2 separate regions of the Homo sapiens genome follow, and region 2 is reported to be linked to region 1. The links are microRNA targets in miRTarBase. Many come from high-throughput screens and were not tested one by one. Region 1 holds a microRNA gene; the other region holds the end of a gene's coding sequence.
Evidence for each region. The annotated mature microRNA hsa-miR-3914 reads AAGGAACCAGAAAAUGAGAAGU and lies in region 1 at 2,212-2,233, shown strand. An mRNA with a match to its seed (bases 2 to 7 or 8) in the 3' UTR can be bound and repressed. Matches are read on the target gene's strand: a 7mer-m8 pairs with bases 2 to 8, a 7mer-A1 pairs with bases 2 to 7 and ends in A, and an 8mer does both.

Region 2: the mRNA of TAMALIN is a reported target of hsa-miR-3914. Seed matches in the 3' UTR shown: 7mer-m8 at 296-302.

Annotation. Positions count from the first base shown.
Region 1 is chr7:71,305,460-71,309,919 of GRCh38, reverse strand. It overlaps MIR3914-1 (microRNA 3914-1), which reads left to right and starts at 2,150; the gene lies at 2,150-2,248. The region is part of intron 1 of GALNT17 (polypeptide N-acetylgalactosaminyltransferase 17); the gene reads right to left. MIR3914-2 (microRNA 3914-2) reads right to left here and starts at 2,246; the gene lies at 2,152-2,246.
Region 2 is chr12:52,015,042-52,018,041 of GRCh38, forward strand. TAMALIN (trafficking regulator and scaffold protein tamalin) reads left to right here. Exons shown (of 8, transcript NM_181711.4): 8 at 1-848. The coding sequence ends at 158. LOC124902934 (a long non-coding RNA gene) reads left to right here and starts at 1,502. Exons shown (of 2, transcript XR_007063311.1): 1 at 1,502-1,750.

The DNA of each region.
Region 1 (4,460 bases):
CACAACACGTGGGAATTCAAGATGAGATCTGGGTGGGGACATAGCCAAATCATATCAATATATTTCTCTCTTAGTGTTGGCTGGTAGAAAGTAGAGGTCCAAGTTTAGAAATAAGTATTCTAAACATTTCTGGCAAATGCGCTAAACATCACAGCATATGCAGTTTGTATTTACATGACCCCAAATTCATCCCCACTCTCCCTCCACCCTTTATTATGGGAATTCCTTAACATAACTCTTATTATCATTATAATATCCTATATTCATAGGAATATTCCTCTAGTATGTAACTTGAATACTATCTCAAATAATTCTTGAAATTAATAAGCAAATGTAAATAAAAGGATAGCTTGGGGGACAACTTTTGCAGTAAATGACACGACAAAAGTGTAGACAAAAGTTATGCGAACCCAGACGAAGGCATGGTTTTCTCTCCTTGGTCTCGGCAGGGAGCATGCATGGCTTCCTCAAGGAGATAACATTTGGATGTGGTCTCAGAGGGGTGGAAACTCCTTCCCAGCAGAAGGGAAAGCGTGTGCCTCAACTCACATAAGGAAGAAGCAAATTTAGCAGGGAATGAGATGGGAGGCAGGTAGCTGGGCAGGATGGCAAGGCTGGAAAGACAAACAGGAATTAGACTGCCAAGGGTCATGGATTTATTCACTGAGTCACAGTGAACCAAGAAAGGTTTTGAGTAGGAAAGAGAAAAGAAATGATCAGGTCTGGATGCAATGACAGCATAAAAATGACTGACAAGAGTTGGAAAAATGGCACTGAAGGGAAAAAAGACTAGGTAGAGGGTGACATCAGCTGTCCAAGTCAGACTCAAAAGGATTTGAGCTAGGACAAGTGGTGGATAGAGAGTAAAAAGAAATGAGCTGGGCGCAGTGGCTCACATCTGTAATCCCAACACTTTGGGAGGCCGAGGTGGGCAGATCACCTGAGGTCAGGAGTTCGAGACCAGTATGGCCAACATGGTGAAACCCCGTCTCTACTAAACATACAAAAATTACCCAGGCGTAATGGTGCTTGCCTGTAATGCAGCTACTTGGGAGGCTGAGCCATAAGAAATCCGTTGAACCCAAAAGGCAGAGGTTGCAGTGAGCTGAGATCGTGCCACTGCACTCCAGCCTGGGCAACAGAGCTTGACTCTGTTTCAAAAAAAAAAAAAAAAACTAAAGAGAAATGAAAGGCACTTCCAAAGCAGAGCCCAGAGCAGTTGCTGGCTTGTCTTCCCCAATACCTGTCACATCCCTTTTCTCATTGCATCCATGTTTATTTATCTCGTGCAAAGTGCCTGAAGCTGCAAGGTTCTGGGGATACAGAGGGGCTCTTGATCTAGCCAGGGGGACAGACAATTCCAGAGGAGCCTAACAAAGAGAGGATGCTGAAGATGTAAGTCCTAAATCAAATGGAGGGAGGGCAGTGAATTTGGTATAGAATGTTCGAAAAATCCTATTCATTCCCTCCCTACTCCTGAGAAACACATAGTGATCCTGTGACATCAGCCCCAATGCCTCTTTTGAAAGCAGTTCTATAAAAGGCAATGCCAAGGAATGAGAATGGAAACCGAACAGTCTGGGTGTGGGATGACCCTTGGCAACACGGGTGAGATCACACCCTGCCTTGGTCCCGGCACTGGCAGCCAGGATCTGCTCCCACCGAGCTGCAATCCAATGCTTCTTTCTTCCTCTGCAAATATCCTTCAAGGCTTGACAAATGTGAGTCACCACGACAAGAATAGTGCCATTCCTAAATAGCAGGTCTTTATATACTTTGTTTCCTTGCTCCTATTTGCTACTTTGTCACTAAGCTTTCCAGACAACTGCCCCCATGCAACAAACTCCCCTCTGACCCGGAGCCTTCAGACTTCCCAGAATTGGATGAAATGGAAAACACACAAGACCCCTGAATCAGGCTCAATGAGGCACGTCCCACCTACCCACCTGCTGTGCCCCTTTTCTCCCAAAGGTCTCAGTGTGGCCTCTTTCTAATAACCAGAAACTGTGATCTAAGCATCCCAATGAAGTAACCTTTACAATCTCCCAGAGCCAGAGAAATGCACAAATGAAAAGAAAAAAAAAATGCTTCACTCATAAGCATTGTTCTATTCTAAAAATAGTGCTCTAACCAATACTCACCAACCACTTGGACTTCAGATTTAACTTCTCATTTTCTGGTTCCTTCTAATGAGTATGCTTAACTTGGTAGAAGGAACCAGAAAATGAGAAGTTGAGTAGGAACTCTACTGCTACTCCAGAGACAGGTCTTAACGGAGCACAGAGTGGGTGCAACCAAGGAAGACTTCCTAGAGGTGGGGCTATGAAGACCAGGAAGTCTTCCTCGATTGCATCCACTCTCTGCTCTCTTAAGACCTGTCTCTATCATAGCACTTGATAAGCTGTATTATAATTTTCCGTTTAGATGCCCGTCTCCTCCAACAGATTGTGAGTTTCCTCTCTCATGGCAGAAAGTGGGTCTTATTGCCTCTGTAAGCCAGCACCTAGTGTAATAACATATACCCAGCAGGGTAAAACGTATACTCAAAAATGTGACATAAACCACAATGAGATACCACCTCACACCCATTAAAATGGCTACTGTCAAGAAAACAAAATAACAAGTGTTGGCGAGGATGTGGAGAAAGTGGTACCTTGTGCACGGCTGATGGGAATGCAAAATGCTGCAACCCCTATGGAAAACAGTATGGCGGTTCTGCAAAAAGTTAAACATAGAATTACCACAGGATCCAGGAATTTTACTTCTGGGCATAAACCCCAAAGAAATGAAAGCAGGGACCAGGGGTGGTGGCTCACGCTTGTCATCCCAGCACTTTGGGAGGCCAAGGTGGGCAGATCACTTGAGGTCAGGAGTTCAAGACCAGCCTGCCCAACATAGTGAAACCCCATCTCCACTAAAAATACAAAAATTAGCCAGGTGTGGTGGTGGGCACCTGTAATCCCAGGTACTCGGGAGGCTGAGGCAGGAGAATGGCATGAACCCAGGAGGCAGAGGCTGCAGTGAGCTGAGACTGTGCCACTGCACTCCAGCCTGGGCAACAGAGCGAGACTCTGTCTCAAAAAACAAAACAAAACAAAACAGAAATGAAAACAGGGACTTGAACAGATATTTGCACACTCATGCTCATAGTAGCACTATTTGCAATAGTCAGTAGGTAGAAGCAACCCAAGTACCCATCAACAGATGAATAAACAAAAGAGGATACATTAAGTTGGTGCAAAAGTAATTTCTGTTTTTTGCCATTACTTTCAATGGCAAAAACAGCAATTATTTTTGCACCAGCCTAAGATGTAAACATACAATGGATTATTATTCAGCCTTCAAAAGGAAGGAAATCCTAACACATGCTACAACTTGAATGAACTTTGAGGACGATATTCTAAGTGAAATAAACCAGTCACAAAAGGACAATTACTGTATGATTTCACTTAAATGAGGTATGTAGAGTAGTCAAATTCTAGAGACAGAGAAAGAAGAATAGTGGGGGGCGTTGACAGCAGGTAGGGGGAGTTATTGTTTAATGGGTACAGAGCTTCAGATCTGCATGATGAAAACAGTTCTGTTGCCCAAAAATGTGTATATACTTAACGCTACTGATATATGCACATATAAATTGTTAAGATGGTAAATTTCATGTTATGTATGTTTTACCAAAATTAGAATTTATTTTATTTTATTTTGAGACAAATCTCACTCTGTCACCCATGCTGGAGTGCAATGATGCGATCTTGGCTCACTGCTATTTCTGCCGCCTAGGTTCAAGTGATTCTCCTGCCTCAGCCTCCCAAGTAGCTGGGATTACAGCCACGCACCACCACACCCGCCTAATTTTAGTATTTTTAAGTAAAGATGGAGTTTAGCCATGTTGGCCAGGCTGGTCTCGAGCCCCTGACCTCAAGTGATCCGCCTGCCTCAGCCTCCCAAAGTGCTGGGATTACAGGCGTGGGCCACCATGCCCGGCCTAATTAGAAATTTTTTAATTGTAAATCAGGACACTCTCTTGCTTAAAGCTTCCAGTGGCTTTCCACGGTACCTGGATTTTTTTTCTTTTTTTAAGTGGCAGAATGAATTGGATGATGTCAGAGGAAGAGTCTTCTAAGGCCAGTCCGTGGAGTTAGTAATTATCTCTCTTCGAATCCAAAAGGTTCATTGAGATATGGAAACTTCTCTGGCTCTGGGTGACATCAGGTCGCCAACCTAGTAAGTCCTTTACTGCTGACCCCGCACTGGACTGAGATGACAACTTCCTGGAGGGGCCCTCCCCCGTCCCCTCACCGTTGTCATAACACCCACCAAACTCACAGTCTGGGGAGGAGAAGGGGCTTACAGAGGTCCTGCTTTCAACACAAAGACCAAAGACATCGCCATGAAATGAGAGCCCAGATTTTAAGAACAACTGCTAACAATTTCACTACTCTGAATTTCCGGGACTGAATCTG
Region 2 (3,000 bases), not on the chromosome of region 1:
GCGGGGGCGCGCCGGGCGCGCTCTGGACTGAGGCTCGCGAGCAGGCCCTATGCGGCCCCGGCCTGCGCAAAACCAAGTACCGCAGCTTCCGCCGGCGGCTGCTCAAGTTCATCCCCGGACTCAACCGCTCCCTGGAGGAGGAGGAGAGCCAGCTGTAGGGGCGGGGGCGGGCAGGGAGGTATTTATTTATTTATTCGCAACAGCCAGCGCTAAAAGAGGGGGAGGCCGAGCCAAGAGGACCCCAGGAGCCCAGAGCAGCGGGAGAGGGTCCTTCCTAGCCTCGGCCCGCCGGGTCGGTTCCTGGCTGGTGTCTGCTGAGGGAGTGGGGGGCCCAGCCCCTTCTCTTCTCCCCCGCCAAACCACAGTGGGAGCTGGGGCAGGGGGAGAGCCAGGCAATCGGGGGCCAAAGATGGGGGTGCTCGCCTACAGTCTGCATCTGTAGTGCCTTGTGGGGTATCCAGGAACACCCTCCCAGCAGGGGATGGGAACCCTGTCCCATGAAGCCCTCTCCTCAGCTTTACTTGCTCCCCCGCCCTTAGCCTTGGGGAGAAATGGCCCGTGGTGGGCTGACCCCCCACCCTCCACACACACAGTTCCATGACCCAGCGGGCCCCCAGGGGCATCAGGTGCTGGTCCTCCTCCCTCCTGGCCTCGACCCCTAAGGGCTTCGCCCCTCCCAGGGGCCTGTAACTAAGTCGGGTCCTGCCAGGCAGGGGGCCTGTGTTCTGTGCCCCTTGGGAGACAGGAACTGGCGAGTTCAGGTGGGGTGGGGACAGCACAGACTGTTCCACCGTTGTGCATATTGTTGCTTCTGAACCACAAACTGTATAAATGGATGGTTTTTTGCATCTGTGTCAGTGTGGTGACTGCCTGAGGGGGAGGATTGGGCTGGGGCAAGCTCTGACTCCACCATCCCAACCCCCGCCCAACGCACACACATCTTGTTTTCTTGCAGCCTGAAGCCAGGGAAATAGGCTGGGAGATTTAAACTTACATGTATGGGCCTGAGCTGGAGGCCCCACGCTTCTTCACAACTTGAGCCTCCCTCCCCAGATACCCAAGCAGGTGGTGACCAAGGCTTGCCTCAAGTCCTTAGCCATCCCTGTAGAAATACGTGTGCTTGGCATGCCTTTCTTCCCAGCTTCTGAGGTCTCCCTTGAGGGGCACAAGCCAGATCTGTAGGGACCTGAGGCATTACCACCTGGCCTGTGAGGGGCCCAATCACGGCTCACTCTGTTGTTCTAGCAGTCTTCAGCGGTTTCCCACCCCAGGATGAGATTTTTCTTTTTTGAGATGGAGTCTCCCTCTGTTGCCCAGGCTGGAGTGCAGTGGCCCGATCTCAGTTCATTGTAACCTCTGTCTCCTGGATTCAAGTGATTCTCCCGCCTCAGCCTCCCGAGTAGCTGAGGTTACAGGCAGGCGCCACCACACCCAGCTAATTGTTGTATTTTTAGTAGAGACGGGGTTTCACCATGTTGGCCAGGCTGGTCTCGAACTCCTGACCTCAGGTGATCTGCCTGCCTTGGCCTCCCAAAATGCTGAGATTACATGCGTGAGCCACCGCGCCCGGCCTCCCAGGATGAGAGTCTGACCCCTGCCGGCCTCTGCTTCTTACTCCCCGCTCTGGCTGCGCTGCTGGCTGTACCTGGCACACTTCAGACCCCTTCTATCAGGGTCTGTGCTCTTACCCCTCCCACAGGTGGCTCCTTCAGTCCTCAGCCCTGCCTCCCGAAGACCTTCCCACCCAGTGGTAAATACAGTCATGCCCTCCCCTGTGACAGCCCTGTTTTATTCCCATCAGACTGTGCATCGCCATCCGAGACTGTCTTGACTTTTATGGGTTTATCTTTGCCTGCCCGCCCCACCCGGGAGGATGCACGCTTCTTGCACAGGGCTCAGGAGCCTTGTCTGTCTTCACTGCTTTTTTCTTGCCTGATGCTAGCACATGGTAGACCCTCAATACAGTGTGTGCCAACATGGTGTGTGCTCAAGCATCTCCAAGTGGTAGTCACGACCTCTTTGAAGTGACCTGTCGGGTCATACAGCAAGCTAGTGTCAGAGCTGGGCCTGGGACTTGAGGCCCCTGCTCCAGTGCTCCTCCCGGGGAGTAACCAGCATGCAAAGGGTGGCTTTGAGAGAGGTCTGAGCAGACCCTCCCTACCTGTCCTGCACCATGGTTCTTGCTTTTTGAGTGGGTCCCATTTCTGTTTCTGCTTTTGCTCCTTGAGCATCCCTTCTGCACACAGCAGTCAGCGTGATCTTTTCAAAAAGGAAACTGGATCACAACCCTCCTCTGCTTAAACCCATTATGCCTTTCCCTGGAATAAAAGAATAAGGTCCAAACTCTTTACCATGGCCTATCCATAACACGTCCCTCCGGGGAGACAAATAACAACACAGCTTCCCTTTCTCCAGGCTGACAGCAGCCACATAGGCCCAACAGTTTGGTAACTGGGAGCCTTTTGTGCAGTACCCAACCTCTGCAACTATATCCTGATGCCCTCCATGAATCCCTCTAGAATCTGGTCCCTGCCTCTCCCTCTGATCTCAAATTGTTTCTCCTTCTATGTCACTTGTTACATCTAAGCACACTATCCCTTCTGCTCCTATTCCTCAAATATGTCAAGCTCTCTCCTGCCTCTGGCCTTCACCCATGCTGTCTTCTCTGCCCGGAACACTCTTCTTTGCAAGAATGATTTCTCTATCCTCACACCTCAGCTGAAACATCACCTCCTCAGAGAGGTTTGCCTTATCAAATAGGAACAAGTTCGCTGACCCCATTATTTATTATTTATTTATTTTTTTGAGACAGAGTCTTGCTCTGTTGCCCAGGCTGGAGTGCAGTGGCACAATCTCGGCTCACTACAAGCTCCGCCTCCCAGGTTCATGCCATTCTCCTGCCTCAGTCTCCCGAGTAGCTGGGACTACAGGCGCCCGCCACTAGGCCCAGCTAATTTTTTTGTATTTTTAGTAGAGACGGGGTTTCACTGTGTTAGCCAG